Linked DNA regions of Homo sapiens: region 1 is linked to region 2. The links come from fine-mapping of genetic effects on gene expression. Tissue or cell type: whole blood. Region 2 holds a variant in brackets; the other region holds the start of a gene. All regions are shown on one strand. Distances are from middle to middle.

Evidence for each region. PIP is the estimated chance that this variant, and not a neighbour inherited with it, causes the effect.
Region 1: RNASEH2C starts here. The variant in region 2 is fine-mapped to the expression of RNASEH2C in whole blood (INTERVAL, PIP above 0.99).

What each region holds. Positions count from the first base shown.
Region 1 is chr11:65,719,442-65,721,941 of GRCh38, reverse strand. RNASEH2C (ribonuclease H2 subunit C) reads left to right here and starts at 1,144. Exons shown (of 4, transcript NM_032193.4): 1 at 1,144-1,355; 2 at 1,525-1,700; 3 at 1,778-1,897; 4 at 2,133-2,500. The coding sequence starts at 1,184. The coding sequence ends at 2,159. It overlaps KAT5 (lysine acetyltransferase 5), which reads right to left. Exons shown (of 13, transcript NM_182710.3): 13 at 2,338-2,500. RefSeq lists an enhancer at 999-1,068 and a silencer at 1,219-1,458.
Region 2 is chr11:65,615,332-65,618,082 of GRCh38, reverse strand. It overlaps PCNX3 (pecanex 3), which reads right to left and starts at 2,307. Exons shown (of 35, transcript NM_032223.4): 1 at 1,619-2,307; 2 at 1,072-1,259; 3 at 734-833; 4 at 574-613; 5 at 377-472; 6 at 1-143. The coding sequence starts at 1,771. RefSeq lists a silencer at 1,813-2,062 and enhancers at 2,193-2,242, 2,253-2,402, 2,683-2,751. The variant A/G (reference allele first, on the strand shown) is at 1,329.

The DNA of each region.
Region 1 (2,500 bases), 100 kb before region 2:
AAATTAGTCTTTGTCCTGGGTGCAGTGGCTCACGCCTGTAATTCCAGCGTGATTTGGGAGGCCAAGGTGGGCAGATCACTTGAGTCCAGGAGTTCAAGACCAGCCTGGGCAACATGGCAAAACTCCACCTCTACCAAAAATACAAAAATTAGCTGCGTGGTGGCGCAGGCCTGTGGTTCCAGCTACACAGGAAGCTGAGGATGGGGGATGGATTAAGCCTGGGAGGTCGAGGCTGCAGTGAGCCAATCAAACCACTGCACTCCAGCCTAGGCGAGTGAGACCTTGTCTAAAAGACCAAACAACCACAAAAATAAGTCCTTGTCCAGCAAAAATCACCTTTACACAGGTTTGCAAGACAGACCACAGATAAAACATTTTCAATGCATTTAAGAAAAGGGTTGATGTCCCTAATAAACTAAAAATGAATAACCTACCTACTAATCAATATAAAAAGAGTACTTTTCAGAATCGTTTTAGATTTTTACAACGACATGTGCCATTAAAAACAATAAAAGAAAAAAACCCGGCTGGGGGCGGTGTCTCACGCCTGTAATCCAAGTACTTCAGAAGGCCGAGGCTGGAGGATCGCCTGAGGTCAGGAGTTCGAGACCAGCCTGGCCAACATGGCGAAACCCAGTCTCTACTAAAAATACAAAAATTAGGTGGGCATGGTGGTGTGCGCCTGTAATCCCAGCTACTCCGGAGGCTGAGGCAGGAGAATCGCTTGAACCCGGGAGGCGGAGGTTGCAGTGAGCTGAGACCGTGCCTGGCACTCCAGCCTGGGCGACAAAACGAGACTCTGTCAAAAAAAAATAATAATAAATAAGAAAAAGAAAGAAAGAGGGAAGGACGGGAAGGAAGGGAAGGGAAGGGGGGAAGGAAGGGAGGCAGGGAGGAGGGGGAGGGGGGAGGGGGAAGGAGGGGGGAGGGGGAAGGAGAGGGGGAGAGGGGAGGGAGGAAAGAGGGGAGGGGGGAAGGAAGGAAGGAAAAAAACAAAACACAACTGGAAAACCCTAGGACTTGAACCCAGGGAAAGCGTTAGGGGGTAAGGGGACTACACTTCCCGTGAAGCTCCGCGGCGGCTTCCCGTGAGGCCCCGCGGAGGCTTCCTGAGAGGTCCTGCGCGCTTTCCGCGCCAGCTTCAGTGTCAGCTCGCGAGCCCTGGCGTCGCGTAGGAGGGAGGATGGAGAGCGGCGACGAAGCGGCCATCGAGAGGCACCGCGTCCACTTGCGCTCCGCCACATTGCGCGACGCCGTACCCGCCACACTGCATCTGCTGCCCTGCGAGGTTGCGGTGGACGGGCCCGCCCCGGTGGGGCGCTTCTTCACGCCCGCCATCCGCCAGGGCCCCGAGGGTGAGCCCTGCGGCCGGACTACGGCTCCCGGCAGCCCCCGCGCCGGCCTGCGCGCTTCTCATCGCCTGGGCTCCTGGGGATCGTGGTCCGTCCGGAGGTGGCGGGAGGGCAGCTCCGGGCTCGACCCAGCGTGGGTCCTGCCTGAGGCCCTTTGCGCCTCCCGCTCCAGGACTCGAAGTGTCGTTTCGGGGCCGCTGTCTACGGGGAGAGGAGGTGGCGGTGCCGCCTGGCCTCGTGGGATACGTGATGGTGACAGAAGAGAAGAAGGTGTCGATGGGGAAGCCAGACCCCTTGCGGGATTCCGGGACTGACGACCAAGAGGAGGAGCCGCTGGAGCGGGACTTCGTGAGCAAAGGGATAGGGTTGAAAGGGGGTGCGGGCGGGAGCTGTAGTCCCGATGCTGAGCCAGGCCCCTTCCCCAGGACCGCTTCATTGGAGCCACTGCCAACTTCAGCCGCTTCACCCTGTGGGGTCTGGAGACCATCCCTGGCCCGGATGCCAAAGTGCGTGGGGCCTTAACTTGGCCCAGCCTTGCGGCAGCGGTGAGTAGACGAGGAGTTCCGTCTTGCCCCCGGGTGGATGGGCTGGGGAGCACAATTGCGCAGACGGAGCCTGGAGGATTCTACTGGGTAGTGTGTGGGAAGCGTAGCTCCCTGACCACTCTTCCTAGCATGTCTAGAAGCGGTTATTCTGAACAGCTGGGTCCTTCCTCGGGTATGGGGGCCAGCTTGCCGCCCTGTCTTACAAGTCCAACAGTAGAGGCGACTCCTGTTGCAGATTCACGCACAGGTGCCCGAGGACTGAGAACCAGAGCTTGAAATTCAAAGCTGCGATCCCTTCACAGCAGTAAACCAGCTCTTTGGAACCGATTCCATCACCCCAATAAAGGAGCTCTTCACAGCACCTGTGAGTCTGGGCGCCTTAGAGCCCCTAAGCCAGCATGGGCCCTTTCCCCCTCCCCACCAAGAACTTTGCATGGCTCTGGCATATAGAAACAATTTATTGCCGGGGGCAATAGGGGTAAGAGAAGCCAGAAATTTTTGCAGCCAGCACCCACCCCACCCCCAACTTCTACTTTACAAAAGAAATTTTTACAATCACCAGCCCTCTGTACAGAGCTCCCCCATCCGGATCCCTTCTCACTG
Region 2 (2,751 bases):
CAGGGGGCTCATGGGAGTGTCAGCCATGCTGCTCCCACTCCAGGGCGCTCCATCTCCAGCCAGGGGAGAAGGCTCTGAAGAGTCTGTACTGGCAAGAGAGGGGTCTGGGACAGCCCCTGGAGGCGTCTGGGGAAGGTCTCCAACTGCCAAAATAAAGGGAAACAGAAAATGAAAAAAGGGTTTTCTGCAAAACAAACTAGTGGTTAAGGGAGGTCTTATGCCCTGTACTTTCCCTGAGAGCCCAGCCACAGCAGCACACTGGGGAGGTCCCACAGAGGAATACAGAGGAGACCCAGGATGGAGCCAAAGTTGAGGGGATTCAACAACGAAACAGCTGGTCTAGCCCACAAGCCTCGGCCCCATAAGGCCCACGCACTCAGTTTCTCCTGCGAGCTGAGCTTCAGCATCTCTCGGTCGGCAGAAGTCACGATCACATTGTTGCTGCCCTGCTCCCGCACCAGCTCCTTGATGTCTGCAACCATGGCCCCAGAGGTGTCAGCAGGACCCCCTGGCACAGCACGCCAGCCCCTGTTCCACAGCACTATGCTCCAACCCTGAAGAGCAGCCACCTACCTCTAAGGGGCCCAGAGTCCTCCATTCGGGGCAGCAGCTCCTGAGTAGACAGAGAGCCATGAAGGAACAAACAAGGCAAGAAGTAGGCTCAGGATGCACCCACAGTAGGGACTGGCTCGCAGAGGGACAGGAGGACAAGCTGAGGTCCAGGCCCACTCACCGAGACCTGGTTGAAGCCAAACACAGAGTGCTGGGAGCTGCAGCGCACCGGGGGTGTGGAACTGACTTTCCGGAACACTGTCATCTCCACTCCGGGGTCCCTGGCGGTGAAAAAGAGCAGCAGCTTTGAGCTAACCTCTCCTCTGTGTATGCTACTTCCTCCCATCTTTGTCACTGCTTCTTTTTCAGAAGTCACTTTACAATTCCAGGGCTAACACAGGACAAGTGTTCACAATCACTCAGAGAGCCAATGTTCCCTAAGCCCCTACTCCACCCTGCAAGGTTCCGGCCCAGGCACCAAAAACCCTCAATCCCCAGCACAGCCCCTACCCCACCCACCTGGGTGGATTGCTGTCCCCCTGGGCAGGCTCTTCCTCCAGCTCCCCCATGGTAGAGCTGCGCTTCTCCACGATCTCGCCCTGGTCAAACATGGCATGAAGCCGATAATTGACAGTCTTGATAGTAGCAAAGATGACAGCCACCACGAGGCAGTACACGCCGGCCACCATCAAGCTGGGAGGCAGGACCTGAAGATGAAAGTAAGCCAGGTCCCTTTTCACAAAGCCTCGCCCCCACAGGATGTACCTGCCATCAAC[A/G]TCATAGCTGGGATTCACAGACTCACAAGAAAATTTCATCACCTCTCCACACAACCAGTACACAGACCTCGACAAAGGGCTCTGTATTCTGCTTAGCTGGATGAGATTAAGTGTAGGGTTCAAGGTCACTCGATCCAAGAAAGGAAGACTTTGGCCCCTCTTCCACACAGACCCAAACTCTGCAGTGATTCCTCTCTCTCCACGTCCCAGAGCCCAGGGCACTGCCCTGAATCCCTGCCAGGCTGCCCTCCCTCTCCCGGCTGGAGTTACAGGTGGCCGTGGCGTCTCACCATGTACAGTAAGAAGGGAAAGATGAGCAGGAAGATCCAGACATAGAGGTGGAAGCAGTTGGAGAAGGTGCTCTGGTGCGGGTCGAAGAACCAACCGCCGGTGAGCGAGGCCCACACCCCCTGGCGCAGGATCTGCAACACCTGCGACCCCATGGCCCCGCCGCTGCTGCCCGCGCCCCCCCTCCCGGGACCCTCATGGGGGCGGCCCCCGGCCCATGCCCCGTCTGGCGCCTGAGGGCCCCGGGGCCCGGCCTCACGCTCACGCCATGGCCTCCCCCAGCGGGGGAGGGGGGCTCGGCCGCGCGAGGGTGCGAGCAGGGGGCGGGGCCGGCCGGGACAGTCAGTGGTGCAAGGCCCGGACGCGGGGGTGGGGCTGCATCAGGGGCGGGGTCCGGGTCCCCACTCCTGGCCCAGAATTGCTCCGAGGGGCCGAGCCGGCAGGCAGGCGCGGGGCACGGGCCGGGTACCCGTCGGCGGCATCCAGAGGTGGTCGTGGGGTGGGTGCTCCCGGGGTGCAGGCGACAGCTCCCTAGTCTCCGGACCAGGGAGAACCCCAGGATCTGGGGTCCACTTTCGGGGTCGCAGGTCACTTGCTTGGGGCTCCGCGCTCGCCCGGCTTCTGCTGGTGCCGGCCTAAGGAGGAGGCCGGAAGAAGGAGCCGCGAACCGCCAGCCTGCAGTGGCGCATGCGCCCAACGATTCCAATTGGGACCCGGAAAAGGAAAACTTGACGGCATGAATGCGCAAGCGCAGAAAGGTGATGGCGCGGTAGGACGCGAGGGGTGCCCTTTGGGCGTGCGCAGACTCCAGGACTAAAGCAAGTTCGAGCGTAAAAGCGTTTGGGCGCATGCGTAGACCCAGGCGTTGCCAACCCAGGGTAGACGACTGGGCGGAACCAAAGAGACAGTTGAGTAGCCATTGGGTAACGGCAAAGTAATTGGCGCACAGCTCTTCCAATGAGTTACAGGAGGCGGGGAAAAGGTGGAGGCGTGGACTCCCCTAGTAGCAGCGAGAGTTCTGCACTACCGAAGCACGCCCCTCTCGGCCCGCCCCCTTTAATGCTGGACCTCGTACGTCACGACCGATTTCGCTCCCAGCGGCGTCTACTTCCGGGTCAGAGCTCAGACCTAGGGT